4 separate regions of the Homo sapiens genome follow, and regions 2, 3 and 4 are each linked to region 1. Evidence: fine-mapped expression QTL. A gene starts in region 1. Each other region holds a variant in brackets. All regions are shown on one strand. Distances are between the middles of the regions. Region 1 holds the start of SYT17 (synaptotagmin 17). Region 2 overlaps SYT17 (synaptotagmin 17). Region 3 overlaps SYT17 (synaptotagmin 17). Region 4 overlaps LOC105371114 (a long non-coding RNA gene).

Region 1 (7,882 bases):
CATTTCATAATACCAGAGGCAGGTTCTATTATCCGCATTTTAAATAACCTCTTCTTTTGCTCGAGAGGTGCTTAGTATTCTTGGACAGTTTCAGGTCATAAGGGATTAAGGTACCAAAAAATTCTGGGGACGGGGTCATCCCCCTCCTCCAAGATCAGGCATTATTAGGCAACATGGTGCAGGGGCTAGGGAAAGGATTCAGGTTTAGGTTTGAATCCCAGCTCCTGGAAGCCACACACACCCTGCAGGGCAGACACATTTGACGGCAATAATTGAACTTAGCTTACCCTGCGAACGACCCTATGGTCTAAGAAGAATGTGTATTCACAGTTCAGAGCTAAGGAATCCGGGAGTGGCCAACCTGGAGATTCACTCCTTATCTATGAAGGATGTCTGGGTCCCCTGCCTATCCCTTGGAATGCAGGCTGTACAGGCAATTGAGGCCCTTGGTTTTGGGTTAAAGAGCCAAAACCCTTGGTTAAAGGGCCAAAAGGAAGTTGCTTAGATAGAAGGTGCTAAGCGAAAATGCTATATAAACTGCATGCTTTTTATATAAACATGTTTTTTATATAAACAATCGAGGCCCTTTGTTTTGGGTTAAAGGGCCAAAAGGAAGTTGCTAGGTGGAGGGTGCTAAGTGAAAATGCTACATAAACTGCATGCTTTTATATAAACAGTAGAGGTTCTCCTGTCCAGCCAGCTGCCACTGGATTGTCCCTGTATGTAAGTTCCCTCAATAAACCCTGTGTCTCGTTCACTGTCTCTAGGTCTCTTTTTTGGCCTCCTGGACATGGTACTATTCCTAAAGGAGTTAACAGTGGCCTGGCATGACACGCCTTGGGCAAATGACTTCATCTCTTTTTTTTTTTTTCGAGATGGGGTCTTACTCTGTCATGTAGGCTAGAGTGCAGTGGTGTGATCTCAGCTCACTATAGCCTCAATCTCCTGGGCTCAAGCGATTCTCCAGCCTCAGTCTCCCAAGTAGCTGGGACTACAGGTGTGAGCCACCAATGCCGGGCTAATTTTTGTATTTTGTAAAGAAACTTTTTGTAGGCTGGTCTTGAACTCCTGGCCTCAAGTGATCCACCCACTTTGGCCTCCCAAAGTGCTGGGATTACAGGCATGAGCCACCATGCCTGGCCAACTTCACCTCTTAATGCCTCTTTTTTTCTCACCTAAAGAGTGGGATAGTACTTGTGCCTACCTCATGGTAATCAGAGAATTAAAAGATCAAAATTTGTGTAAAGGGCTGAAAACAGTGCCTGGTACACAGACCTCAAAAAGGGTTAACTTTTTTTTTTTGAGATGGTATCTCATTCTGTCACCCAGGCTGGAGTGCAGTGGCACGATCTCAGCTCACTGCAACCTCCGCCTCCCAGGTTCAAGTGATTCTCCTAGCCTCAGCCTCCTGAGTAGTTGGGATTACAGGCACCTGCCACCATGCCCGGCTATTTTTTGTATTTTTAGTAGAGACGGAGTTTCGCCATGTTGGCCAGGCTGATCTCGAACTCCTGACCTCAGGTGAAAAAGGGTTAACTATTTTTACTTATGGGAACACCTAGCAAATTCCTCGAACTCCCTCAAGTGCCCCCAAGGAGCACCCGTTCCAATAGGCATCCTCCTCTGTGAGGCTCACTCCCCACCTGGCATGCCTTGCCATCAGTGCTGGAGAAAGATTGTGGATAAATACCACAAAGTGGTTAGGAGTGGCCACTTTGGGTTCACTGCTGGACTTGTGGGTTCAAATGTCAGTGCCCTGGGCTACCAGCTGTCAGGCCTTCATAGAGGCTTTACCTGTCTGGGCTGCAGTCCCTCATAAATTGGAGATAATCATAGCACCTCCCTCAGGAAGCAGAGTGAATAAGGCAACAAAAACAATTACTGAGTGCCTACTCTGGCTGGACAGGTGCTACCTAATAGGAGTGATCAAGGTACTGCAGGTTGAAATGAAATAACGCTTGTGAAGTGTTGAGGCGTGTATGCCTGCAGAATCATAAGCACTCAATATGCGTTACGTGCTATATGCTACAAACTAAATATATCATACTAAAAAATGTATAGGTCTGCTAGATTTTTAGACAAAAAATATATGCATCTGAATATCCATCTTTTGTTACTCCCATATTCATTTTCTCATTTATTCCCACAAATCAGCCCTGGAGGATAGGCAGGGTGGAGATTTTCTCCTGTTTTTACTGAGGAAAAAGAGGCACTGGGAGGTTAAAATTAAAATGCTGATAAGCTGGTGTCCGGCAACAGGAGATGACTGGGCATATTAAAAAGAAAACCGGCCCGGCGCAGTGGCTCACGCCCCTAATCCCAGCACTTTGGGAGGCCGAGGCAGGCAGATCACTTGAGGCCAGGAGTTCGAGACCAGCCTGGCCCACATGGTGAAACCCTTTCTCTACCAAAAATACAAAAATTAGTGGGCGTGGTGGCATGTGCCTGTAGTCCCAGCTACTCGGGAGGCTGAGACACGAGAATCCCTTGAACCTGGGAGGCGGAGGTTTCAGTGAGCCAAGATTACCCCAGTGCACTCCAGCCTGGGTGACAGAGTGACACCCTGTGTCAAAAATAAAATAAAATAAAATAAAATAAAATAAAATAAAATAAAATAAAATAAAATAAAATAAAATAAGAAATCCAGCGGAGGGCAATGTTCCACCTCGAATCTCTGAGTGGAGAGCCAGAGGCCTTGGGCTGGGAGGTTTGATGGAGGCCTCTGGGTCCAGGGCGCCCCAGCCACGAGGACAGGCAGGAGGGCGGCGGTGGACACGCCCCGGGGCGCACGCTCGCTGGCGGCCGCCTGCCCGTGGGCAGAGGAGCGCACGAGGCCGGGCACGACGCTGGGTGGCGCTGCCGGGCCGCCCCGCGCTAGACCTGTTGCGTCCAGGGCGCAACTCCGGCAGGTTTAGGGTAAAGGGGCGCTCCGCTCTCTCCGCGCGCCCCCTGCAGCCCTGGACGCAGCACCTCCGTTTGGGACGCCCTACGCCCACCTTAACTTGAGGCTCCCATCCACGCAGCCTCTGCAAGCCTCACCGCAACCGTGCTAGGCGCGTCGGGTGGGGCGGGAATAAAGTTTTTCCAACCCAGTTTGGGGAGAGGGCTGGATGGGAAGGACCCTCCCTGCTGCAGACTTCATGGCAGGCTGCACTGTGTCCCCTCGGCTCCACGGCTGCCCCGGGGGCGCTGCTTTCGGTAGGTGCCAGCCCCCGTGCCAGCAGGATGGGCTGACCTGTGTACCGCCCCCTCCCACCCCCTTCCCCATTCCCATCCCCTCCCCCGCCTCCTGCGCGCTCCGGCCCCGGCGTCTCCGGCCCCGCCTGCGCTGGGGTCGCTGCAGTCCCCGCAGCTGCCCCGGGCTGCTTGCCCAGGCGCCCCGGCCTTATTCCAGCCTGGGGAGCGCCTCGGTGGGGAGCACGGGACAGCGAGGGAGGCCGAGGCGGGGGCCCTGGGCGCCCGATATCTCCGAACCGGGGAGGCGGCCCCGATTCCGAGAGCCGGAACGCAGGGAAAGGCAAGGACGGGGCGGCCGGCGGAGGGGCGGGCGCCGCTCATCAGCCACGCCAGTCACGTCTGGGGCCACCGGCTGCCTTTTTCTTCCTTTCCCCCTTTGCTTTCTTCCCCCTCCGCTGTTGGCGAGGGCAAAGTGGCCGTGGCGGCGCCATGCCCGGGCCGGAGTGAGTGCGCGCGGGCGAAAATGGCGTACATCCAGGTAGGGCTGAGGCTGGGGGCAAGGTCCGGGGTGCGGGTAGGGGGTGCCGCGCCCCCTCCGGCTGGGAGCGCGCGGAAGGGAGGGCCCACGGCTAGGCTCCCACAAACTTGCTTCGAGAAAAAGGGTGCCCGTGCGCGGGCAACCTGTGCAGCAACAGGGGTGCGCCCCGGGAGGAGAGACTGGGGACCCCCAAACCCCGGGATGGAGGGTCCTATGTGTACTCTGCAACGCGCGCCCTTGCCTCTTGGGGAGGGAATGGGGGGTGGGGCGGACTTTTCTTCTCCCCTGCCCCCTCCCTCTCCTTGGCACCCCACCCCAGGGGAGGGGCCGTGGGGAGGGCGGCCCGGGGCGCGCCAGCCACCCGGCCCGCCAGCTGCCGTTGCCGTGGTGACGGCTCCGGCTAATTGGCCGGCGGAGCGAGCCTGAGGCAGCTGTTCCGACCAGGAGGGACAAGGACGTCGTCTCTCCTGGGCACTGGGTGCTGAGGGGTGGGGGACACCCAGAGGCCAGAGGCGCGCTGGTGAAGAGAAGGGAGCCTGTTACTTTACTCCGCTGCATTGGGGTCTGGGAGATGTGGACCCTCTTCACCTTGAAGAAACGTCCCCCAAGAATCCTTGGGCTGAAATAATTCTGAAATAATTTCTAAGCAGCCTTTTTTGGGGGGAGGGGGCGGAGGGGTGGGCCGGGCTTCTTGGTGAAAAGACCTTTCTCCTCTGCAAGAAGGGAAGTGACCGCAGGTCAGCGCCAAGGTCAAGCAGGCAGACCCGCAGTGAGACCCGTTGAGCTGCTTGCTTCTGGCGCTGGCGCCTCTGAGCTGGGCAGAGAAGCTTACAGACTCCCACGTCCAGGGTGCATCTTGGCTCACATCTTGTCCCCTCAGCCACAGCTGGGGGTGCTGCTGGTCCTCCCATTCCCCTCTGGGTCACATATCCCCTCATCGTGTCCTCAGACGCTTCAGCCTGCCGGGAACTCTGTGCTGTGTCACCTGGCGGAGCCTCTTCCATTCATCTCCTGCCTTAGATTCCCTGAATTGGCTTCCCTTTCGTGGAATCGCCAGTTTCTCTTCAAGTTCAATGAAGGTCACATTACTGTCCACCCACTGTGTGCTGAATGTTGTCCAGGGGCTATTGAGTAGTCGCCCAACAAACACTTGGGCGACCGCCTACTAAGTGCTGGCACTGGGGATACAGTGATGAAAACAGCACAGTTCCTGCCCCTCTGGGTGCGCAATTTAGTGAGAAATGAACATGATTACCGGCTCCTGGAGTTCTTAATGGCCGCCTTCAGCACAGAGAAATTAAGTGACTTGCCCAAGGCCACATAGCTGCTTAGGGGTCAAGGTGGGATCTCAAGAGGGGACTGTGGTAGATATGTTAAGCATCTCATATGGCGATGACCCAGTGATGTTGGTTTTCCTTCTAGAACAAGGTGTTAAACTTTGTTGTCCTGTAAAGTGCCAGATACTATTTTTTTTCTCTTGGAGGCTCACATGGTCTCTGTCACAACTATTCCACTCTGACTATAGCACCAAAACTGCTATGGACAGTAGTAAATGAGTGGGCGTGGCTGTGTTCCAATAAAACTTTATTTGCAGGCACCAAAATTTGAATTTTGTATACTTTGCACGAGTCAAGAGGCATTCATCTTTTTTTTTTTTCAACCTTTTAAAAACTCACAAATTATTCTTAGCTCAAGGGCTGTAGCAAAACAGGCTGCGGGGCTGGTTTTGATCTGCGAGCCTTAGTTTGCCAACCTCTGTTTAGAATGCATGGGTTGTCTTTCTTCCTCTTTCTTTCTGGTGTGAATTGGTTCTCTTCCATCGGTGTCAAACACGTGAGCCCAGGAGACCCAATGCCAGAAAGACTCAGCATGCCTGGGAATGTCAGGGCACCCTCTTTCATCTTCTTTGCTTTCTCTCTGCTCCTTGACACTCATCTTGCACCTGGGCTTTGAGAAAGTTGGGGAGGCTGTTTTTCAGCAGGGCCATGAGGTGACCTTGTCTCTGTTCACTTTGGTTTCATAAATGGCCTCTTTTGACCACCACATGTCTAGGAAATGCTTCCCTGTATTCAGAAAATGGTCATAGATTATTATGAAAAAGTATCACTTTATCCTAACATTCTAAAGCACTTTTTCATGCAAGCCCTATGAGGGTATAATATTTTGCTGTTTTGTGCCCTGCTGTACCTGCCGGGACAATACCCAGTGCCTACTGGGTTCCACTAGGTCTTGACAATCACCTAATTCTCATCACAGAAAGGGTGCATTTTATTTTTCAGCTGGACCGCACGCAAGTATTTGCATAGTCAGTGTCCTGTCCCACCTCAACAGCACGCCTTTGAGGTATAGAGTAGCCTTTCCACTAAAGAAGAGGTAACCGAGGCTCAGAGAGGCCCCCTGTCTTGCCCAAGTCACATGATCAGTCGATGGTGAGACTAGGACTCTAGTACTTCCTGGCTCAGCTTGTTGCGTGGCCCCTCAGCACCTTTGGGTCTTGTTCTGTGTATGGTTTGAGTTTTGGCTTTAGAGAGTTTGTGATAAGTGCCTTTGACTATTTCCCAAGCTGTTGCTATTCCCTTACCACTTCGAGGATTTCAATTTTTTCACAAGCCACGTACCACCTATACTATGATGATGATGATGATGATGATGATGATGATGATGATTATGATTATTATTTTAGACAGGGTCTCACTCTGTCGCCCAGGCTGGAGTGCAGTGGTGCGATCTCGGCTCACTGCAACCTCTGCTTCCCAGGTTCAAGTGATTCTCCTGCCTCAGCCTCCCCAGCAGCTGGGATTACAGGCGCCTGCCACCACGCCTGGCTAATTTTTTGTATTTTTAGAAAAGAGGGGGTTTCACCATGTTGGCCAGGCTGGTCTCAAACTCCTGACCTCAGGTGATCCACCCGCCTTGGCCTCCCAAAGTACTGTGATTATAGGCATCAGCCACCACGCCCAGCCCTACCTATGCTATTATTAACTTAATTTTTTTTCTATAAATGGGCTCATTTTTATTTTTACTTTAAAAAAATCATATGAAAAGGAAACATTATGTCACTAATATCATAGGAAACCAAGATCATGTGACATCGCAGAAGGCAACTAGAAGAATAAACCCAATGGGAATAATGCCACATTACTGAATTCTAGGTGGACGTGGCTGTCTCCAAGCCTCTGGACAAGATCTACTTTCTTTGTTTAAAAGAAAGGGGATGGGGGAGGGTGGAAATTGGTAAGTGGTAAAAGATGTTAACATGTAGTGGTACCAAATTGAGACTTTCTCCTCCTTAAAGGAGAATCGGAAAAAAGATAATAACTTTCTCCCTCTTGATTCAAAGTTCTGAGTTTGAGTCCCACCTCAGTTCACCTCTGGGACATGCCCGAGGTTGGGATGCAGTACTTCTAACCTATCTAGCCTACTTGGCCCATTTGGAAAACCACCTTAAAGAGAAGGAGGGAGTCTGTGCCTTGAGAACCCAGGAGACGAAGATGGGGAGGCGGGGTGGGGCCACAACAGGAAGGGAGGACCTCCTTCCTCAAGAGGACCAGATTAGGGCTTCCTTTTTAGTTCCCTCTATTTGTGGGTGGTGATAGGAAACACCCCACCATCACCATTGGAGCAGAATTGGAAGGTAGGGCCTCCGGGAGGGCGGGGGAGCCAAGTAACATCCACTGTGTGCCTGCCTGCATGTTAGCTAATCATGTCCTTTTGGGTTGGCTACATGGCTATTTCTGTATAGGAAGGTTTGCTCTTCTCCTGAAGTGTGGCTGCATTGGATAGCATGACTATCTATCCGCCCGCTCTGATTCATAACAGCATACGGTGCAAATCAAATCGAAATGCTAAAGTTTCCCATTTATTTGGTGTTGGTTAACCAGGAGGCTACCAGCAGCCCTGAAAATAGCAACACCTTGTTAGGATGTTAGGAAGTCAGCTCCCTTCCCAGGATGGTAAGTGGAAATATGCAGGGCTTTTTTTTTTTTTTGTAAAATTTTTTTGAGTTGCTGGAATATTGCTAAACTGGTCTTGTCTCTCTTTCTTTAACCCCTTCGTTCCCTTACGCCCTTGGCTTCATCGTGGATCTTAAAAGGGCAGTTGGAACCATTAAACGAGGTGGGTTCATTTGATGATTTGTTTGGTCTGGTTTCTAATCAAGAAATGCCT
Region 2 (7,882 bases), 51 kb after region 1:
CCTCCCAAAGTACTGGGATTACAGACATGAGCTACTGCACCCAGCCAACTTTATTATTAATAATAAGTTACTTGGCCCTTGTATTAGTCTGTTCTCATGCTGCTGATAAAGACATACCTGAGACTAGGCAATTTACAAAAGAAGGAGTTTTAATTAGACTTACAATTCCACGTGGCTGGGGAAGCCTTGCAATCATGGCAGAAGGCAAGGAGAGCAAGTCACGTCTTACATGGATGGCAGCAGGCAAACAGAGAGAACTTGTGCAGGGAAACTCCTCTTTTTAAGACCATCAGATCTCGTGAGACTTATTCACTATCACGGGAACAACATGGGAAAGACTTGCCTCCATGATTCAATTACCTCCCACCAGGCCCCTCCCACTATATGTGGGAATTCAAGATGAGATTTGAGCGGGAACACATCCAAACCATATCAACTTTTATATAATAATATTGATAAATTCAGGATCAGAACACAACAAAGAGTATTGGGGCTTTAGTGAAGGCTTCCCTCATTCTGTTCCATCTGTATGGGGCACCCTTCCCTGCAATATTTGCTGGACTAAATCCTACTTATCAAGGCTTAACTCAAATGCCTCCTCCTCCATGAAGACTTCCTTGACCATGCCCCTCCCAAGAATAGATTGTGCTTCAGTCTGTCTTGGGTTTCATTTATATTGCTGATTAATACTTGAGCCCTACAATTATTTCTTTTTTTTTTTTTTTATTATACTTTAAGTTCTGGGGTACCTGTGCAGAACGTGCAGGTTTGTTACATAGGTATACACATGCCATGGTGGTTTGCTGCACCCATCAACCTGTCATCTACATGAGGTATTTCTCCTCATGCTATCCCTCCCTTAGCCCCCCAACCCCCAACAGATCCTGGTATGTGATATTCCCCTCCCTGTGTCCATGTGTTCTCATTGTTCAGCTCTCACTTATGAGTGAGAACATGCGGTGTTTGGTTTTCTGTTCCTGTGTTAGTTTGCTGAGGATGATGGTTTCCAGCTTCATCCATGTCCCTGCAAAGACATGAACTCATCCTTTTTTATGGCTGCATAGTATTCCATGGTGTATATATGCTACATTTTCTTTATCCTGTCTATCATTGTTGGACATTGGGGTTGGTTCCAAGTCCTTGCTATTGTGAATATTGCCACAATAAACATACATGTGCATGTGTCTTTATAGTAGAATGATTTATAATCCTTGGATATATACCCAGTAATGGGATTGCTGGGTCAAATGGTATTTCTGGCTCTAGATCCTTGATGGATCTCCACACAGTCTTCCACAATGGTTGAACTAATTTACACTCCTGCCAACAGTGTAAAAGCTTTCCTATTTCTTCACATCCTCTCCAGCATCTGCTGTTTCCTGACTTTTTAATGATCGCCATTTTAACTGGTGTAAGATGATATCTCATTGTGGTTTTGATTTGCATTTCTCTAATAACCAGTGATGATGAGCTTTTTTCCATATGTTTGCAATTATTTCTTAATTGAGGTGAAATTCACATAGTATAAATGTAATCATTTTAAATATACAATTCAGTGGCATTTAGTAAATTCTCAGTGGTGTGCAACCATCACCTCTATCTAATTCCAGTTCTGGAATTATGGAATTCCATAATTGGAATGTTCCATATGGAACATTCCCATCACCCAAAGGAGACCCTGTATCCATTAAACAGTCACTCCATATTTCCCCCACCTCCCAGATCCTAGCAATCACTCATCTACTTTCTATCTCTATGGATTTACCTATTCTGGATATTTTATCAATGGAACTGTACAATATGTGATTTTTTGTGTCTGGCTTCTTTCACTTTTTTGAGGTTTGTCTACATTGTATCAATGCTTCATTGTTTTTATGAATGAATAACCTACCATTGCATAGATAGGTGATGTTTTGTTTATCTATCTGTTGATGGACATTTAGGCTGCTTCCACTTTTGTCTATTGTGAATAGTGCTGCTATGAACATCTGCGTACAAGTTTTCATGTGGACATGTTTCCTATTCTCTTAGGTATACACCTAGGAATGGAACTGCTGGGTCATACACCAACCTGTTTACCAAAGCAGCTGCACCAGTTTTCATTACCACCAGCAGTATACAGCGTTCTTGTTTACCACATCCTGGCCAACACTGCTTATGATTTTGTGTGTGTGTGTTTATTATAGCCATCCTAGTGGGTGTGCAGCCCCTGGAATTTTGATTTGTTTTTATATCTTCCTTGCTCTCCACCAATAGATACTGAGTTGCTTGATGTCTGGGATTGCTGCTTAATCACCAGAAACCTTGTGTAAGGGTTAACCATGGGCTGAGTTTGAACCTTGTTCTTTTTGTTTATGATATATGATCTGGAGCAAGTCATGCAGCTCAAGCTCTCTAAGCTTGAATTCTTTCATCTGCAAGATGGAAGCCTCTGGAGTTGTTAAGGAAAAGAAATGCGATTCAGCTTTAGTGCCAGGACAGTGCC[A/T]GGACTATGGTGATTTCTCCATAAAGGTTTGCTGTAACAATCATAATCGTGACATCCCCAAGTGCTTGGACCTAGTACCTGTTACATGAGCGTTTATTAAATGAATCAATGAATCCTTTGCTATTGCACAATTAGCCCTCTTTTTTACTTTCTATCAACTGCTCCCCTGACTCCAGACAACAGTTTTACAAATTGATCACTCCCCAGATAAGGCAGACAGAAACAGTGGCCGGATCAATGGGAATGGTTCCCTGGAAAAGTACAACCTGAAATCCCTGTTGTGCATGCTGTGTATGGAGGATGGGATGGGTAGAGAGTACAGCAAGCTTGTATCTGCAAAGGGAAGAAGGAATAAAAGAGCTTTGCTTTCTTAAGATGAAAAACACTCAGTCTTCTTAGAAAAAGGATGACTTCAGGAAGTGCCTTGTTGAAGGTTCGATCAATGGCCCCAGGGGAGGGAAGGAACAATTCTATCCACACTTGAAGGCTGCAGAGGTGGCTTGAGGGGCTCTTAGGTATTGAGGGCCCAGAAGATGGCCTCACCACCTCCTTCCAGTTCTGTGAAGACTGCCAGGATTGGGCAGAGCCCCTGGGATCAACCACTGGGCAGCTTGCCTTGGTTCCTGTAGGCGTCTCTAGAATCCATTCATTCTGCCCACACTGGCCTTCTCTTTGTTCCTTTGAACACACTGACTGAGTGATGCCGGGTTTATTCCTCCCTCCCTCCATCCCAGACCTTGCACATGTTGTTCCCTCTGCCCCATGAGTCCCTATCCCTCTTTCCTCCCTCATTCCTCTTCAAACCTCGCCTCTCAGAGAAACCCTACCCCATCCACCGACTGAAAGGGCAGCTCCCACGCGAACCCCATCCATTCTCTTACACTGCCTAATTTGTCTTGTTTTCCTTTTTCATATTTATTTTATGTTTTTAATGGGAATATTTCCCACATAAAATAATAAAACAAGGCCGGGCGCGGTGGCTCACGCCTGTAATCCCAGCACTTTGGGAGGCCGAGGCGGGTGGATCATGAGGTCAGGAGATCGAGACCATCCTGGCTAACAAGGTGAAACCCCGTCTCTACTAAAAATACAAAAAATTAGCCGGGCGCGGTGGCGGGCGCCTGTAGTCCCAGCTACTGGGGAGGCTGAGGCAGGAGAATGGCGTGAACCCGGGAAGCGGAGCTTGCAGTGAGCCGAGATTGCGCCACTGCAGTCCGCAGTCCGGCCTGGGCGACAGAGCGAGACTCCGTCTCAAAAAAAAAAAAAAAAAAAAAAAAAAAAAAAAAAAAAATAATAATAATAATAATAATAAAACAAACACCCATGTGTCCATCTCCCAGATGTCGTAAGTCGCCAATATTTTGCCACATTTGCTTACTTCAAATCACTCCCTTTCAATCAACTGCATTGAGGCGGAACTTACTGTTTGTTGATTTTTGGCAAATGCACACGTAACTGCTACCACAATCAAGATATAGCATATTGCTATCACCCAAGAAATGTTCTTCCTTTCTCTCACTCTGCTATATTTTTCTTCCTAATACTTAGCATTACCTGAAATCATCTCATTTATGTATTTTTTAAAATCTGTGTGCTATCCATCCCCCCCACAGGAGTGTATGTTCCATAAAGTCAGGGACGGTTCTCACTGGTGTATCCTTAGTCCTGGTACATAGTAAACTGTTTTTTGTTCTGTTTTGTTTTTGTTTTGTTTTGTTTTGTTTTAAAATAAAAGGAAATATCACTGTGACTTATAAACCTGGGAGGAGCAAAGTCCAGGAGGACCTGGATGGCCTGGGCTCCTGAGAATTCTCCGCATTGCTCATACTAGAGTAGATGTGTCAGCAGGGTCATGCCCTAAAGACACCGCATCTTCCAAGCCCTTGAGAAGCAGCAGGAAACCCCTAGCAACAGTGCAAAAGGGGCTGAACTTCTTTTATTACTCAAGACACTCAGTTGACCATTCCTATTTTGAAAATCTCCATACTTGGATACCCAGGGCAGGGCAGCAGGAATGTAAAGGGGCAGAAATGGACAGATGAGGTATGATGTGAAGGGGGCAGGTCCCATCTAAAGGAGCACTGCACTGCTCTGTGGCTAGATGTTGGGTTAAAGAAAATTATTCAATGACATTTCTTTCTTTCTTTCTTTTTTTTTTTTTTTTTGAGATGAAGTCTCGCTCTGGTGCCTGGGCTGCAGTGCAGTGGTGTGATTTCGGCTCACTGCAACCTCCGCCTCCTGGATTCAAGTGATCTGCCTCAGCCTCCCAAGTAGCTGGGATCACAGGTGCACACCACCATGTCTGACTAATTTTTGTATTTTTACTAGAGATGGGGTTTCACCATGTTGGCCAGGTTGGTCTTGAACTCGTGACCTTAGATGATCCACCCACGTTGGCCTCCCAAAGTGCTGGGGTTACAGGCATGAGCCACTGCACCTGGTCCTCAATGACACTTCTTGAAGTATGGCAAGGCAGAATTTATTGAGGACCATCATGATATGTACAGGGACCACAGTAATGGGATTTTTCAGTCACAGAGAGAAACTAGGCTCAGCCTCAAATACAGCATAGACAAATGGGAATCTATAGCCATGGAGCAAAGTCGGGGGTCAGGGATTTTTTAAAAACATTACTAAGAGGAAGCATCAGAGGAGTAAGGGGGACTCTGGCTAAATCAACCTAGCAGGATTTTTGCTGGAGACAGGCCAGGGTGATCAGACATTACCTGAGGGATGACGAAGAATGAAGAACCTGTCTGGGCATGATGGCTCATGCCTGTTATCCCAACAGTTTGGGAGGCTAAGGCAGGAGGATCACTTGAGGCCAGGATTTCAAGACCAGCCTGGGTAACACAGGAAGACCTCAACTCTTAAAAAAAAAAAAATCATCCAGGCATAGTGGCACATGCCGTAATCCCAGCTATTCAGGATGTTAAGGTAGTAGGATCCCTTGAGCCCAGGAATTTGAGGTTGCAGGGAGCTATGATCATGCCATTGTTCCAGACTGAGTGATAGGGTGAGACCTTGTCTCAAAAAAAAAAAAAAAAAAAAAAGAGAGAGAGAGAATGAGGAATCTGACCAAACTGACTTAGCAGCGTTCTTTGCAGAAACTGGATTTTACAAGGTGGTGCACTGATGGGCCTAGGAGGTTTAGGAGCCTGACTAAAGTTTGGTCAAGTAAAGAATCTTTGTCACTTGCCTGGTGGGAATGCCAGCGTTACCAGATCTTCCTGTTTTTCAAGCAAGGCAAGAAACCCACATTTTTTAAAAATGTGGAATAGCCTGATTCTTGAATTGTATAATAATTAACAAGTAATTATAAGTTAAAATGTGATGTGGGGCAAACAAAATACACCTGCAGGCTGTTTGTTAGCAACTTCTGAGTTAACATGCGAGATTGTTTCTTGTTTGTTTGGGGACTAACTCACTCAGTACAGGAATCTTTTGGTTTGACTGTTCACCCTGTCAGTAGATGTTTATTGAGTATCTACTATGTGCTAGGCATTGTTCTAGAGCCGCTGGGTATTGTGCTAGGCATTTGGCATTAATTTGTTGAAATGACTGGCATCAAAAAAGATAGAGATGAAAGATAGATGATAAAGATAGATAATAGACATAGATAAATAGATGACTGACAGATAATAGATGGTTAGATTATAGATAGATGAGACAGTTAGATAGATAGATAGAGATGTTACCCTTTAAAGATACATATTGAAATATTACAAATAATATAATGACTGGGAGTTACTTCAGAGGAATATGGGGAGTTGAATGAAGGTGTAAGTGAGGGGAGATTCACCATGGGATGAGAATTTTTGAAGCTGAATGATGTTTGGGTACGAAGATGGTGGGGTATACTCTTCTGTCTGGTTTTGAATATGACTGGAAATTTCCCACACTAAAATGCTTGTTTTAATGTCCTCATCAGTTAAAGATGCATTCTGAAGGATATGCAGGTACAATGACACCATATCGAGGGCTTAGTTTAAAATATTCAGCTAAAACGTTTCACAAGTCAGAATATAGGTGAAATACCATTTGGCAAAATGTCGATAATTGTTACAATTTTGTGACGGATAGATGGAGATTTGTTATGCTAGTCTATTGTTTTGTATATGGCTGAAATTTTCTACAATACTTTTTTTTTTAAAAGGGGACAGAGAAGTGGGAGGCCTCCTGTTTTCTAGGTACCTTTGGCAGTATGGAGTCATGCACTTAGGTGTTCATGGGAATTTTCCACAGTGTGACAGAGCTGACATCAAGGGGATGGGTACTCTTCAACAAGGGATGTCACTGTGCCGAGTGTTGCTATCGTGAGGTTAGAAGCGTGGGATCTGCTGGGGACTCCAGGTTAAGAACAGATTTCTCACTCAGTTCCTCTGCAGGGCATTCTACCTCCCAGGTATCCTATTGGATGGCAGAATAACAGCAGTCAGAGTATCTGGAACCAAATCAGCCTCCCTGGGTTTAAGTACCAGCTCTACCACTTTCTTGCTGTGGCTTTGGACATGTTATTTAACCCTGTGAGCCTCGGTTTCCTCATCTGTTAAACAGAGTTAATACTAATACCTCACAGACTCATTAGTCATTACATGTAAAGCGCTTAGCGTAGTACATGGCAGTGAAGCATTTTTTAAAAAATTATTGCTGCTTTTGTTGTTATTGTTGTTGCTGTTGAGTGATCTAAGAGCGGAAAAAACTCAGAGATAGATGGACCACAATAATTAGAGGCAGAGATGAAAAGAAGTCACACACAGAGGCTCCCACTGTCAACTGATGCGCTCACAGCAACCTGTTTGTGAGCTGCTGCAATCAATTTCTTGTATGGTGGGTGCAAAAGGAATAAAAGGAGAAGGCAACTTCCTGATCATTTCCTTTCTCTACAGAATGAAGTGGAGCTGGGGGAGCTGCTTCTGTCACTGAATTATCTCCCAAGTGCTGGCAGACTGAATGTTGATGTCATTCGAGCCAAGCAACTTCTTCAGACAGATGTGAGCCAAGGTTCAGGTACCGTGTGATTCCCCTCTTCTCTCACTTTATTAATGGGGCATCTGTGTTTGTGTGGAGAACCCAGTTTTCTTTTTCCGTATCCTGGATGAGCATTACTCATCTCAGGATGAGGCAGGTAAATGATGCCATCTTAGTAACCCTATTGGAATTGGGGAGTTGACTGAGACTGGTTGTGATAACTACTGGAAACTTAAAACCTATTTGAACCCAAGGAAGTGACTTGGCCTTTCCAAATGCTATTCCTGCAATGTAGACGCCATCCTGCAGGTGGCGATAGTGTGCATTGACTATCCATTCTAATCAATGAGCGTGGAGGACACACCCTAAGGTTTTTCGCCAGCTCATTTCATGTGTGCCATAAATTTTTATGAATTCCAACTCTGA
Region 3 (7,882 bases), 42 kb after region 1:
GAGTGGATCCCTCATGACTGACTAGGTGCCATCCTCATGGTAGTAAGTGAGTTCTTGCTCTGTTAGTTCTGCACAAGAGCTGGTTGTTTAAAAGAGCCTCGTGCCTTCCCCATCTCTCTTGCTTCCTCTCGTGCCCTGTGATCTTTGCACACGACAGCTCCCTTTCCCCTTCTGACAAAAGTAGAAGCAGCCTGAGACCCTCACCAGAAGCAGAGGAGATGCTGGTGCCATGCTTCTTGTACAGCCTGCAGGACCACGAGCCACTTAATCCTCTTTTCTTTATAAATTACCCAGCCTCAGTTATTCTTCTATAGCAATGCAAAATGGACTAAGACAGTCATATTTACAGGTGTATTAGTCTGTTCTCACACTGCTATAAGAAATACCTGAGACTGGGTAATTTATAAAGAAGAGGTTTAATTGACTTACAGTTCTGTAGGCTGCATAGGAAGCATGGCTGGGGAGGCCTCAGGAAACTTACAATCACGGTGGAAGGCAAGGGGGGGAAAGAGATACCTCATATGGCCAGAGCAGGAGGAAGAGACAGAGAATGGGGAGGGGCCACACACTTTTAAACAACCAGATCTCCTGAGAACTCTATCATGAGAACAGCACCAAAGGGGGAAATCCACCTCCATGGTCCAATCACCTCCCACCAGGCCTCACCTCCAACATTGGGGGAAAGTTATGTAAGGTCACTACCCTCAATGAGCTCACAGCTTCGTGGAGCAGAAAGATAGGGAACAAGGTGGCCACTCCCTCAAAAATGAAAATGGGGCCAGGCACAGTGGCTCATACCTGTAATCCTTGGGGAGGCCAGGGCAACAGGATCACTCGAGGCCAGGAGTTCAAGGCTGCGAGCTGTGATCACACCACTGCACTCCAGCTTGGGTGACACAGTGAGACCCCGTCTGTAACAAAACAGGAAAAAAAAGAAAGAAAGAAAGAAAATGGAGCCTTACCTCATAACACAGACCAAAATCAAATCCTGATGGTCAGGAACTGATGAATGGCCAAACTTTAAGTTTTATAAGGAAATAAAGATCTTTATGAGCTTAGTATAGCAAAGCACCTCTTTAAAAAGTCAGAAAATAAAGTATGAACCAATGAAGGCAAAGAGGGATGCATCCTACCACATTAAAATGATGAACTTCTGCTTATCAGGAAACATAGTAAAAAGGATTAAAAGGCAAGCCACAGACTGGGAGGATACGTTTGCTATACACATATATTAGTTTTCTAGGGCTGTTGTAAGAAAATGCCGCAAACTGGTGGCTTGAAGAACATAAATTTACTCTCTGCAATTATTGGAGGTGTATTAGTCCTTCACACTGCTATAAAGAACCACCTGAGACTGGGCACTACTAAGAAAAGAGGTTCCGTTGACTCACCGTTCTGCATGGCTGTGGAGGCCCAGGAAACTTACAATCATGGTGGAAGGTGAAGGGGAAGCAAAGCACGGCTTACATGGCAGCAGGAGAGTGAGGGGGGAAGTGCCACACATTTTTAAACTGTCAGATCTCATGAGAACTCACTCACTGTTATGAGAACAGCATGGGGAAATCCACCCCACAATCCAATCACCTCCCACCAGGTCCCTCCCCTGACATGTGGGGATTAAAATTCCACATGAGATTTGGGTGGGGACAAAGAGCCAAATCATGTCAGGAAGGTGTTGGCAAAGCTATTATCTGTACCAGGCCTCTGTCACAGTGTCTGGTGGTTGGCTGGCAATATTTGGTGTCTATTGGCTTATAGATCTCTGCCTTCATCTTCACGTGGTATTCTCCCTGTGTGCATGTCTAAATGTCCTCTTTTCATCAGGACATCAGTCATTGGATTAAGGCCTACCCTACTCCAGTATAACCTTATCTTATTTAATCACTTCTACAAGGACCTTCTTTTTTTTTTTTTTTTTTTTTTTTTTGAGACAGAGTCTCGCGCTGTCACCCAGGCTGGAGTGCAGTGGTACGATCTTGGCTCACTGCAATCTCTGCCTTTCGGGTTCAAGGGAGCTGGGATTACAGACACCCACCACCACACCTGCCTAATTTTTTGTATTTTTAGTAGAGATGGAGTTTCACCATGTTGGTCAGGCTGGTCTCGAACTTCTGACCTCAAGTGATCTGCCTGCCTCAGCCTCTTAAAGTGATGGGATTACAGGCGCGAGCCACTGCACCCTGCCAGGACATTATTTCTAAATAAGGTCACATTCAGAGATCCTGGGGGTTGGAAATTAAATATGAATTTTGGGGAGGGAAATAATTCAACCCATAAAAACATGTAATTGCTGAATAATAGTATCCATAATACTTAAAGGCCCTTCTAGAAATTAATAAGAGAAAGACAAATACACAATGATCAAAAAGAAATGAGCAGGGTTTTCATAGATGAGAAAGCATAAGTAGCTGATAACACAACAAGGTGCTCACCTCTTTAGCAGTCAGGGAAACCCAGATTAAACCCACAAGATACCCATCAGATGAGACTAATGAAAAGCCTGACAATAACAGACCAATATAATCCAGTGTGAAATGCAGCTTGTCAGCCTCACTGGGGGCTTATGGAGGAAGGGCATTGCACTCACATAGAAAGTCAACATTTCGGCTGGGCGCGGTGGCTCACGCCTGTAATCCCAGCACTTTGGGAGACCGAGGTGGGCGGATCACAAGGTCAGGAGATCGAGACCATCCTGGCTAACATGGTGAAACCCTGTCTTTACTAAAAAATACAAAAAAAAAAAAATTAGCCGGGCGTGGTGGTGGGCGCCTGTAGTCCCAGCTACTCGGGAGGCTGAGGTAGGAGAATGGCGTGAACCCGGGAGGCGGAACTTGCAGTGAGCTGAGATCGTGCCACTGCACTCCAGCCTGGGAGACAGAGCAAGACTCTGTCTCAAAACAAAACAAAACAAAACAAAAACAACAACAACAACAACAAAAAACCCTAAGTATCTAGCAATAGGAAAATGGTTAATATAAGTTACAGTATTTCAGCCTAATGGAATGTTGTATGTGAACATTTATAATGACACTTATAATGTCTAGATAGTCACATGGAAAATGTGTGTGTAATTCTTTTAGTTTTATTATATTTTATTATTTTATTTTTATTAGTACAAATTTATGAGGTACACATGAAATTTTGTTACATATGTAATATATAGTGATAAAGTCATAGTATTTAGGGCTTCTATCATTCTGGTACAATACATTTTTGTTAAATATAGTAACACTACTCTACTATCAAACATTTATTATTATTATTTTTTAATTGAGACGGAGTCTTGCTTGAGGCAGGAGTCCTGAACTCCCGGCTTCAAGTGATCCTGCCACCTTGGCCTCCCGAAGTGCTTGGATTACAAGCGTGAGTCACCGTGCCCAGCCCCAAACATTGAATTTTTTCCTTCTCACTAACTGTATGTTTGTACCCTTTAACCCACTTCTCTTTATCCTCTCCCCTCTGATCTAAGGGTATTTTTTTTTAAAAGGGTATTTTTTTTTAAAGGGTATTTTTTTTTTTTAAATACCCTTTTTTTTTCTTAAAGGGTATTTCAGAATGTGACTGTATTGTCAATGCAGCTATGCAAATACAGGGTTGAGGTATTGACAAAGACTGGGAAAAAAAGTGAAGAGAAGAAAGAAGAAGAAAGAAAAGGAAGTGAAAGCATTTGATGAAATGTGTAAAGCACTGGCATTGCGGTTGGAGTTTGCTTTTTAAAAAATCCATTTCTATTTTAATGTTGTTTGTGCAGCAGATTAAGAGACAATAGACTTTATCCAACCGGTGAGAGCAAAGGCATAAGGGGGCGCAGAGCAGCTGTGTTTGGGCTTCACTAAAATTTGTGTGCGCACATTTGAAACCCTTTGCTAGGTGAGAGAGAGCGAAAGGACCATAGAGAAGGAGTTCAAAGCAAACCTGTCAGGAGGAGAGCTGGGCTCTTGCTATCTCCAGAAAATGTCTTTTGTCCCAGATGATTTTCTTTGATTTCCTTTTTATTGATTAGAAATTAACTGTGTTGAAAGGCTGCCGGGAGAGAGAATTTTTGTCTGGGTAGAGAGGAGAGAGCTGAGCCACATTTGCCCAAGCCGGCTGCTGGATTCATCTGAGTAATTTACAGATTGTCTATTTTGGTTCTCCCTAGCCCACCCCACGTGGTTCGACCAAATTAAGCGCATCGGGCTCTTACAAGAAAGGAAATGAGGCCTGTTTATTTGTGACATCGCTTCCACAAGGGACGAGGTAGAAGTGGGCCTGTCACCCAGTTCCTTCTCCTGTCTTGGCTTCGATTCTGTGGGGGTTGGATAGGACAGGGGGTGGAACATCGTGCTGACAACCCCTCTCGGCCCGTGGTGTGGCAGCAGCTCAGCCTCTGTGTTGGGGGCTGCACTGCTTGATCTTGGATTTGTT[T/G]CTGGTGCTGTGAATATAGTAGTGGACACATGGGCACTTTCTTTGCCTTTATGGAGAAAAAGGTAAGGACCAAGTACCGTGAAGGAAATGACAAGGTGGTGTGATGGGAAATGATGGAGGCAGAGGGGTGTTTTCAACTGAGTGTTAATGGGAAGCTTAGATGAGGAGGTGACTGTTGAGTTGAGATTCCCAGGGAATAGCAAGTTCAAGCCTTGGGGCAGGTACGATCTTGTATTTTTTTTTTTTTTGAGACAGAGTCTCGCTCTGTCGCCGAGGCTGGAGTGCAGTGGCGGGATCTCAGCTCACTGCAAGCTCCGCTCCACCTCCCGGGTTCACGGCATTCCCCTGCCTCAGCCTCCCAAGTAGCTGGGACTACAGGCGCCCGCCACCAAGCCCGGCTAATATTTTTGTATTTTTAGTAGAGACTCGGTTTCACTGTGTTAGCCAGGATGGTCTCGATCTCCTGACCTCGTGATCCGCCCGCCTCAGCCTCCCAAAATGCTGGGATTACAGGTGTGAGCCACCGTGCCTGGCCAATGATCTTGTATTTTTAAAGAATAGAAAGAAGGCAGAGGCGGTTGGTGAGTGAAGTCTCAGAGGTAGGCAGGAATCAAATCATTTGGATCAAATCATTTCGATCCCGTAGATAAATTATTTTAGAGACCATTAGTTCTCAACTGGGTGATTTTTGCCCTCAGTGGACATTTGACGATGTCTGGAGACATTCTGAGACTTTACCACTGGGGAGAGGGGTGATGCCGCTGGCATCCAGTGTGTAGAGGCCAGAGATGCTGCTAAACTTCCTGTAGCGCACAGGACAGCTCCCACAACACAGAATGCTCCAGCCCAAAGTGGCAATAGTGCTGAGGTTGACAAACCCTGTTGTTGACCAGGCTAAGCACTTTGAATTTTATTTTGAGAGATGGAGGGTTTTAAACAGGGAAGTGAGGCCGGGTATGGTGGCTCACACATGTCATCCCAGCACTTTGGGAGGCCAAGGTGGGCAGATCACTTGAGGTCAGGAGTTCGAGACCAGCCTGGCCAGCATGGTAAAACCCTATCTCTACTAAAAATACAAAAATTAGCTGGGCATGGGGGCTCATGCCTGTAATCTCAGCTACTCGGGAGGCTGAGGCACAAGAATCACTTGAACCCAGGAGGCAGAGGCGACAGTGAGCCAAGATTGTGCCAGGGCACTCCAACTTGAGCCACAGAGCGAGATTCCTGTCACAATAAATAAATAAATAAGAAATAAACGGGGAAGTGAGGTAATGGCATGGTTCCGTTTTCTTTTAGAAAACCAGAATATTGGTCTAAATTATTTCAGCTCTGACATTCCAATCTTATCTCACTAAATTTGGATAAGGAAGACTTCACAGAGTTGGAGATCCTACCAGAACAAGCAATCCATTTTCCTTGGGAGGGCTGAACCCACTTCCTAGGAGGATTTTTGTATTTGGTGCTTGGATGTCCACTTTGCAGTGAAAAAGAATGGCTTAAGGAGAAAGAAGAAGGAAGGAAATCTTAGCTGGATCTTTCTGGGCTCTGGATTGTGGCTGGTGCTTTGGCCTCTTCAGATCCAGAGGGGACTGAAGACAGACTCAGTGGAGGCAGTGAATAGACTTTTCTTTCTTCTTAAGAGACAGGGTCTTGCTGTGCCTCCCAGGCTAGAGTGCAGGGGTTCAATCATAGCTTACTAAAGCCTTGTTAGAAACAAATGTGCAGTGTCACAAAGAAAATGAGCACTAAAACAAAGGATTTCCCAGTAAGGCAAAATTTACTTCTGTAGGAAGGTGTTTCTCACAGGTCTAGTCATCATGAGAGTGCACTGAACAAAGGAGGGAAGGGGTTTTTATCCCTAACGTAGCTTGTCCCTGCTACTGTGTCCTGCCTCCACAGGTTGGAGTTGGACCACACAATCTAAGCTGAACCTGGTTGGCTAACTTGGAAAGTGCGGGAATGCGGTTACACTGGCAGGAAGGACAGTTTTGGTGGGAAGAGCTGCTGTGATGGGAGGGGTAATTTACAGAGTGGGTAGTAGATGTAGGCTCTGTAGATAAGGACCAGTGGAAGAGTTGTTTACTGAAACCAAGACAGGGAGGTACAGAGAGCAAGGAAGTTTGGCCTTAAAAGTAGAGAACAAAGAACAAGGAAACTAAACAAGCTAAACCTTTGAAGAGGAGCTTCTCGCATCAGATAGCCTCAAACTCTTGGCTTCAAGCATTCCTCCTGTCTCAGCCTCCTGAGTATCTGGGACCACAGATGCATGCCACCATGCTAAGCTAATTAAAAAATAAAAATAAAGAAAGTTTAGAAATGGAAGGTGGGAAGGTTTTGCTTTGTTGCCCAGGCTGGCCTCAAACTCCTGGCCTCAACCCATCTTCCCACCTCAGCCTCCCGAGTAGTTGGGATTAGAGGCTCAAGCCACTGCACCTGACGAACTGTTCTTATACCAAAAGTTCCAAGTCTTCGGTTCCTGTTAAAATTTTGTTCAGGGTACAGTTATGTATTTAAAAAATCTGAATCAGCCCAAGATTTATAGGCTTAGTTCAGGATTTCTCACCTTTGGCACTAGTGATATTTTGGGCCAGACCATTCCTTGTTGAGGGGGGCTGTCTTGTACCTTGTAGGATGTTTGGCAGCATCCCTGGTCTCTCTCTACCCACTAGATGCCAGTAGCAGACCCTACCCTATTCCCCAGTTATGACAACTAAAACATCTCCAGATGTTGCCAAATGTCCCTGGAGGTGGCAGCAGAGAGGACAAAATTACCCCAGGTTGATGCAAGTTGGATGTCCTAGCACCTCATGGATGTCTGTAAAGATCACCATTAATTTCATGATCTTCCTAAGTGGGGCAAGTTGAGGAGCTGCTGGACTAGATGGTCCTGCTTTCTGTTCCTACATTCTAAGCTCCTTATCAGCTGGCTCCTGGTCAGCTTTTTTTGTTTTGTTTTAAATTAGAGACCATGTGTTGCTCTGTTGCCCAGGCTGGAGTGCAGTGGCACCACCAACATTCACTGCAGCTCCGAACTCCTGGGCTCAATTGATCTTCCCACTTTGACCTCCTAAAGCTCTTGGATTATAGGCATGAGCCACCATGCTTGGCCCTCGTCAGCTTTTAGATGTAGCATCTGATACTTCTAGGGAAGAAGGACTGAGAAGATGCTGGCTCCAGGAACACCCCAGGGACATTTTTGTCCCTAGATTGTTAGAGCCGACATTTATGATGCCCAAGTGAACGATGTTATTCATACGTACAACATATTCTGGGGCAGAGACCCTGAGTGTGATGGCAACTCTCCTTTTCCTCCAGGGCTGGGTTAGGATAAGGCTCTGAGGCCCCCAAGCCCTGAAAATTATGGCGCTGCTCACCATATGTCATTCAAGATAATAATAATTCTCTTTTTTTTTTTTTGAGACAGAGTCTTGCTCTGTTGCCCAGGCTGGTGTGTAGTGGTGCAATCTCAGCTCAC
Region 4 (7,882 bases), 210 kb after region 1:
ACAAGTCGAAGAGCAAGTCTGAGAGGAACCATAGTACTTCAACTTGCTGACACAATGATTGGGCCAGAGTGTGGTCATGTGACACTCAATGAACCAATCAAAGTCCTTCCCTTGCCTTTTAGAAACAGACTGGGAGACATTTACTGAGCACCTATTTTGAGGGACTTACAAGGTTTCCTTCCAGCTTTGAAATCCACGAACCTATAAAAATAATTCCATTTTTAATTCCCCACTTGGAAACAATGATTTGTTAAGCACTTATTGTATGCTAAGCAATATGATCTATGCATTATCTTTCAACAACCTTACAAGATAGATAATATTTCTGTTTCCATTTCTTAAATAAGGAAAGGTTTCCCAGAAGTTAAACAATTTGCTTAAGGTCAAACAGCTAGAAAGTGCTCAAGTTTGAAGTTTCAATTTCTCTGACTCCAGAGTTCAGAGTCTTAATTAATGGCTAAATTGACTCTCATTGACATAATTATGCTCTGAGCCCATCACTAGTTCATTACAATTTCTTTGAAAATACCATTTTTAATGGCTGTAACTTCTTTTTTATCTTGTGGATGCTGTATAATTTAAGTAACTCCCAGTTGTTGAATAATTAGGACATTCACAATCTTTGCCATTATAATCGGCATTTTGTTCTAAATCTCAGTCAGCAAACTGCAGCTTGTGGGCCAGATTCACTTTGCTGCCTGTTTTGTTGGAACACAGCCACGTGCATTTATTCCCATAGCGTCTATGGTTGCTTTCAAGGCAAAGTGGAGTAGTTGCAACAGAAACCTTATGTCCCACAAAGCCTCAAATACTTACAATCTGACTATTTACAGAAAAGGTTTGCCAACCTCTGTTCTAAATATTTATCTACAATGCTGATTCCATCCTTAGGATAAACATATAGAAAGAGAATCAAGGCCGCGAGTGGTGGCTCATACCTGCAATCCCAGCACTTTGGGAGGCCCAGGTGGGCAGATCGCTTGAGCCCAGGATCCTGGGCAACATGGCTAAACCCCATCTCTACAAAAAAAAAAAAAAAAAAAATTACAAAAATTAGCTGGCATGCACCTGTAGTCCCAGCTACTTGGAAGGCCAAGGTGATAGTATGGCTTGAGCCTGGGATATGGAGGTTGCAGTGAGCCTAGATTGTGCCACTGCTCTCCAGCCTGGGCAACAGAGCCAGACTCTGTCTCAAAAAAAAAAAAAAAAAAATAGAACCAGCCAGGTGCAGTGCTGCACACCACAGTCCCAGCTACCCTGGAAGCCGAGGCAGAAAGATCTCTTGATCCCAGGAGTCTAAATCCAGCCTGGGCAACATAGCAAGAACCCTACCTCTTAAAAATAAATAAATTAATTAAAAATTTAAAAGTAAGACCAGGTGCAGTGGCTCATGCCTATAATCCCAGCACTTTGGGAGGCCAAGGAGGGAGGATCACTTGAGGCCAGGAGTTTGAGGCCAGCCTGAGCAACATAGTGAGACCCTGTCTCCACACACAAAATATATACATATATATATAATTTTTTTAAGATAATAAAAGTTTAAAAATATTAAATTTTTAAAATCGAGACAGGGTCTTTCTCTGTCATCCAGGCTGGAGTGCAATAGTGCAAACATGGCTCACTGCAGCCTTGACCTGCCAGGTTCAAATGATCCACCTGCCTCAGCTTCCTAAGTAGCTGGGATCACAGGCGAATGCCACCACATTGGGCTAATTTAAAAAAAAAATTGTAGAGACAGGGTACCACTATGTTGCCCAGGCTGGTCTTGAACTCCTGGGCTCAAGTAATCCTCCTGCCTTGGCCTCCCAAAGTGCTAGGATTACAGGCATGAGCCACTGCACCTGACCTTAATTTTTTTTTAAAGAGAGTATCAAGTCAAATTACTTTTCAGAAAGTTGATTTCAAGCAACATTGCCACCAGCAGTTTGTTTAAAGGTTTCATATCCCAGGCCTTCCACCTTGGCCAGCCCTGGATGACATTATGCAAATAGAAATTGAGGTATTCCACTGTTTCAGGGGCCTCTGGGGATACAGCAGTGACCAAAATACACAGGTCATTGCCCTCATGGGGCTTGTAATCTATGAAAGGGGTGAGGAGATACAATAAACTGCTTGCCAAGTAAATATGTCATTTGTCAGACGGCAATTGGTGCTATGAAGAAAATCAAAGTGGTTGATTTTCCACCCAAGAAGGTGGAGTGGGGTGCTAGTTTACATAAGGAGTTCAGCATCTGTCACTGATACGATGACATTTGAGCAGAGAACTGAAGGAAGAGCATCCCAGGTGGAGGATAAAGCAAATACAGTGAACATGATATTTTCAAAATTCAGCAGGGAAAATCATTATTTTTAGATCCATAGTAGAGCGGTGCTGGGGAGTATTGAGATAACTTTGTCCAGCAGGTAAGTCCAAAGGTATTTCTGTTTGACTCTGAAGCCCCTTGTACTTGCAGCTGATTTGCTTCGAGATTAGGGTTGGCTAAAGCTAACACTAAAATTAGCTTTCGTTTCCTAAATAAACAGCAGCTGGCAGTACATTTGGGGGTGGAGAGCAGCCTGAAAGAGCAGGGTAACAAGAAAAAAAATTGAGGTTTTCACATTTGCTAAGGAAGGAGAGATGCATATCAGTAACTGAGTCAGGTGATATATTCAAGCCTCCCTGGGTGATGGTGTCTTCTGAAACCATAACATGTTAAAATCCTCACTGTCATCAGAAATATTTTCCTTTCCCTCCTCCTCCTTCATTCAATCACCAAATCCTGTAATATCTCCCTCAGAATGAGCACATGAGGCTGGGCACAGCGACTCATGCTTGTAATCCCAGCATTTTGGGAGGCCAAGGCAGGCATTAGGGCCAGGAGTTCCAGACCAGCCTGGGTAGCATGGTGAAACCACATCTCTACCAAAATATGTATATATATATATATACAAAAATTAGCTTAGCTGGTCATGGTGGCACACACCTGTAGTCTCAGCTGCTTGGGAGGCTGCGGTGGGAGGATCACATGAGCCTGGGGAGGTCAAAACTGCAGTGAGTGATGATTGCACCACTGCATTCCAGCCTGGGCAACAGAGCAAGACTCTGATTAAAAATTTTTTTTTTTTGCTGGGCATGGTTGTGCACACCTGTAGTCCCAGCTACTCAGGAGGCTGAGATGGAGGATCACTTGAGCCCAGGAGTTTGAGGCTACGGTGAGTTATGATTGTGCCACTGCACTCCAGCCTGGATGACAGAGCAAGACCCTGTCTCAAAAATAAAATAAAATAAAAATAAAATGCCAACATGATAATGTCACACTCTTATATTAGTAATGTCTGTTTATTCCCAGCTAGAACTCTCATCTTTGGCTTAAATAGACACTCACAACCTTAGCTCCTTTTCCATCCTTCATTCCTGCCACATCTGCCCCAGATGTGCTCTGCTCCTGCCACACTCACCTCAAATGTAACTGTGGTGGCCAGCATCCAAGATGACCATCAGGGATTATCATCTGGCAATGATGCCCGTGTCTGATCCCTTTCCATGTTGGATGGAGCTAAGCGATCTGTAGGATATTGCAAAAGTGGCAACATATAGCTTCCAAGCATAGATCATTAAAGATGTTGTGTCTTTCTCCTTGCTCTCTCTTGAGCTGCTCTCTTGGGGAAGTCAGCCATCCTGTTGTGAGGACGCTGAAGCAACCCTGTGGGAATATCAGTGTGGTGAGAAACTGAGGCCCCCAGCCAACAGCCATGCGCGTGAGCTGCCTTGGAAGCCTGACTTCACACATCCACCTGATGACTTCTGGAAGCCTGACTCCACGTGTCCACATCTGCTCCATCTCCTTCAGAACTAGGCTGTTGGCCAATGCCCCTGTTTGTGTCTTGCTATTTCACTTGGACTATGACTAGGATTCAGGGGGCAAAAATCACCAATTATGGTGAATTCATGTTTTAGTTGATGCAGCTCCCATCAGCAAGGGCTTTTGCCTTTTTTAATGAAAATACCCACCTGGCATGGTGGCTCACACCTGCACTTTGGGAGGCCGAGGCAGGTGTATCGCTTGAGCCCAGGAGTTCAAAACCAGCCTGGGAACATGGTGAAACCCTGTCTCTACTAAAAACAAACATTAGCCAGTCATGGTGGTGCACACCTGTAGTCCCAGGTACTAGGGAGGCTGAGGTAGCAGGATTGCTTGAGCCCAGGAGGTGGAGGCTGCAGTGGGCCATGAGCATGCCACTGCACTCCAGCCTGGGAGACTGAGCAAGACCATGTCTTAAAAAAAAAAAAGAAAAGAAAGAAAAGGAAAAAAGAAATACCCAAAGCCTGAGCTGACCTGGTGATTCTGCCACCCCTGCAATCCTGATTGAATAATGCAACCCAAATTGGTCATAAATTATTCTCATGTAATTTGAAATCATCTACCACAAGGAGAACAAACACAAAAACTGCATAATCTCACAG[C/T]TTGCTGATAAGAACAGAGGGCTTACCAGTGGCAGTGAGGGCTTGGTGCTTGCCCTTGAAAGTGGAGTTCTCATCTGGAATTTCTATAATAGACCCAGAGTCAACAGCCAGGTTCATGCCTGAGGGACCTCAAGGACCATACTGGTTGCTCTGTGAAATGACTACCCCTGGCTTTTGGGAGGTTTAGAGATGACTTGAGCTCTTCATAACTAAAAACATCCATGGCATTTGAGCCTCACCCAATCTCTCAACTTTGTCATTCCCTGGGGATTTAGGGTGCACCGTTGGCTGGGGAACCAGCTGGCTAAAGAGAGAGGCAGTGCACCTGAGACTGTACATGAGCCCGGGCACCTGAGACAGGGAATCTGAGACAGTACTCTCTGTACTTCTTTATCCTCCTCTATAAAGTGATTCTAATAATAGCATCTACCTCTGTAGAAGAAAAAATTATTCAATGGCACATGTTAAAATACGGTAAGGCAGATTTTTCAGGACCATCATGATAGGTATAGGGAACATAGTAATGAAATTTTGCAATGGGAGAGAGATTGGGCTCAGTCTTAAATGGCTGGCCGGCTAAGTGGCTGACTGGGAGGCTGGGTGAGGGGTAGGCTGGGAGGCTGGCCGAGTGGCTGTCTTGGAGGCTTGCCAGCAGGCTGGCTGGCCCGCTGAGATGCTGGTGGGCTGGCTGAGAAGCTGGTCGAGAGGCTAGCGGGCAGTCTTCCTGGCTGAGTGAGAGGCTGGCTGGCTGAGAGTCTGGCTGAGAGGCTAGCTGAGATGTCGGCTGGCTCCGTCTGGGTTGGATGAGGACACTTTGGAGGAGGGAGCAGGAATAAGGAAGATACCCTTACCACCTGCTATCCCCCAGAGCTGGGAGCACCCGGCGCTGAGGGTGGGAGGCGGCAGTGACCGGGCACAGCTTATAGCACCCGGCTCCCTCCGTGCACCCTCGGATGCCAGGAACACCTTCCCTATGAGCACTCCCCATGGCCCTACCGTGGTGGACTGCGGGCCGCAGTCTCTATCTTATCCTCAAAGGTTTTCTGTAGATCTAAAACTGTTCTAAAACAGAAAATTATGTGTGTGGGTAAGTAATTTCCTGGCTCAAAATAAAAGCTATTTTCATTGTGGTTAAGGGTAAGGTCACTGGATGAGAACCTGGTTTCCGATTATTTCCTGTGTGAGCTGGACCACATGCCACAACCTTTCTGAGCCTGTTTTCTCATCCATAAAATGAGGATATAAGACTAGAGCTTAGGTCTCAGGGCTGTGGCAAGAACAATTGCCTAGAGGCAGCCTATATTTCCATCGATAGGAGATGGATTAAATAAATTTTGACACATCTGTGCAGCAATTACCTCTATATGTAGATATATAGAAAATTATATTTATAGAAGGTTTATTATTATTATTATTAATATTCTGAGATGGAGTCTCTGTCGCACAGGCTGGAGTGCAGTGGCGCAATCTCGGCTCTCTGCAAGCTCCACCTACGGAGTTCACGCCATTCTCCTGCCTCAGCCTCCCGAGTAGCTGGGACTACAGGCGCCCGCCACCACACCGGCTAATTTTTTGTATTTTTGGTAGAGACGGGGTTTCACCATGTTAGCCAGCATGGTCTCGATCTCCTGACCTCGTGATTCGTTGGCCTCGGCCTCCCAAAGTGCTGGGATTACAGGTGTGAGCCACTGCGCCCAGCCTATAGAAGGTATATTATGAAGTGAAAAAGCAAGGTGGAAGCTAGACATAGTGGCTCATGCCTATAACCCCAGAATTTTTGGAGGCTGAGGCAGGAGGTTCGTCTGAGTCCAGGAGTTTAAGACCAGCCTGGGCAACATAGCAAGACACCCATCTCTACAAACAATAAAAAAGTAAAAATTAGCCAGGGATGGTGGCACATGCTTGCAGTCCTGGCTACTCAGGAGTCTAAGGAAGGAGGATTGCTAAGCCCAGGATTTCAAGGTTACAGTGAGCCATGCTCATGACACTGCACTCCAGCATGGGTGACAGAGTGAGACACTGTCTCAAAAACAAAACAAAACAAAACAAAACAAAACAAGATGCCAGGTAAGCCACCTTTGGGGTTAAAAAACCAAGAATATATGTGTATATGTTTGTAAATGCATCATACATCTCAGGACAAGGGCAGGGAAAATTTTACTGATTACCCCTTTTTTTTACTAAATAGACATATTACTAATACATGCTCAAATTTTAAAAAATGATCTTTAAGTCTGTGGCACAGAGGAAGTGTCAGGAAATGATGGCTATTTCTATTGTGAGACAATTCCTCCCTCTTCCCTTCCTTACTGGAGGCCACCTCCCCACCCCCAGTCCCAGCCTGCAGATCTGGAAAGGGATGGGTGGAACCCAGTTGTTCCACGTATGGAAGATGGAATGTGATGGAGGCGAGTGGTGACTGTGCAGTGACCTTAGAGAGAAGACCCAGCACTTCCTGCTGGCTGCACCTGGCACCTGGCACCTGGCACCTGGCCCTGACTTGGATCTGCACCTGAGCCAGGGAGACCTCAGTTTTTTTCTTCCAGGAGCAGAAGAATGAACCAGGTTCCTGAAGGAGACTTCCCACTCCCAGAAGAGGAACAATTTTACAGGAATAGAAATTGGATAGTTCTTCAGGAAACAACAGTCTCTTAAATCTCCTGTTTGAAGGAATAGAAGACGACCATTTAGGAGGATGTCTTTGTTCTCAGGAGGTACCTAGAAAAGTAGCTGGGATTGAGGTAGGCTAAAAGATGTCTCCCGAAGATTTCAGACCCTAATCTAAAAAAAAAAGTGTGAACATTACTATGTAGTGAAGAATTACTTTACTCACAGAGAGGTCTATCCCTTTGCCTCCAGCTCCTGGGGGGTGATCTCTAAGCCCCTGAGATGGACATCTTTATTTACCTGGATCCTTGGGTGACATCAGATAATTTAGCAATGTGATTTATGGTGGAGCTTTGTGAATTAGCCAACAAATGTATGATAATTTGTTGCAGCAGTCACAAGAAACGAATACAGGAATGCAGTTTCAAAAAGTCTGTAATTAACTCTCATATGGCTCAGAGAGAAGTAGGAAGAAGCAAGTCTGGTAAAATGTGAACAATTAGTGAACTTACATAAAAGGAATGTGGTTGTCTATTGTACTGTTCTTGCAAATTTTTGTTGGTTTGAAAATTTTCAGAATAAAAGATGGAGGAAGGAATAAAAATACTCATTTAAAACATTACAGTATAGGCCGGGTATGGTGGCTCATGCCCGTAATCAACATTTTGGGAGGCTGAGGCAAGAGGATCGTTTGAGGCCAGGAGTTTGAGACTAGCCTGGCCAACATGGCAAAACCCTGTCTCTACTAAACATGCGAAAATTATCTGGGTGCGATGGCACACAACTGTAACCCGAGCTACTCAGGAGGCTGAGGCAGGAGAATCTCTTGAA

What was found.
Region 2: its variant is fine-mapped to the expression of SYT17 in whole blood (TOPMed, PIP above 0.99).
Region 3: its variant is fine-mapped to the expression of SYT17 in whole blood (TOPMed, PIP above 0.99).
Region 4: its variant is fine-mapped to the expression of SYT17 in thyroid (GTEx, PIP 0.98).

Annotation. Positions count from the first base shown.
Region 1 is chr16:19,164,947-19,172,828 of GRCh38, forward strand. SYT17 (synaptotagmin 17) reads left to right here and starts at 3,294. Exons shown (of 8, transcript NM_016524.4): 1 at 3,294-3,715; 2 at 7,814-7,831. The coding sequence starts at 3,701. RefSeq lists a silencer at 2,690-2,939 and an enhancer at 3,131-3,878.
Region 2 is chr16:19,215,671-19,223,552 of GRCh38, forward strand. It overlaps SYT17 (synaptotagmin 17), which reads left to right. Exons shown (of 8, transcript NM_016524.4): 6 at 7,375-7,495. Among named protein-coding and RNA genes, the nearest start is that of SYT17, 51 kb to the left of the region's middle. The variant A/T (reference allele first, on the strand shown) is at 2,486.
Region 3 is chr16:19,206,984-19,214,865 of GRCh38, forward strand. The region is part of intron 5 of SYT17 (synaptotagmin 17); the gene reads left to right. Among named protein-coding and RNA genes, the nearest start is that of SYT17, 43 kb to the left of the region's middle. The variant T/G (reference allele first, on the strand shown) is at 4,408.
Region 4 is chr16:19,377,992-19,385,873 of GRCh38, forward strand. The region is part of intron 1 of LOC105371114 (a long non-coding RNA gene); the gene reads right to left. Among named protein-coding and RNA genes, the nearest start is that of TMC5, 36 kb to the right of the region's middle. The variant C/T (reference allele first, on the strand shown) is at 4,445.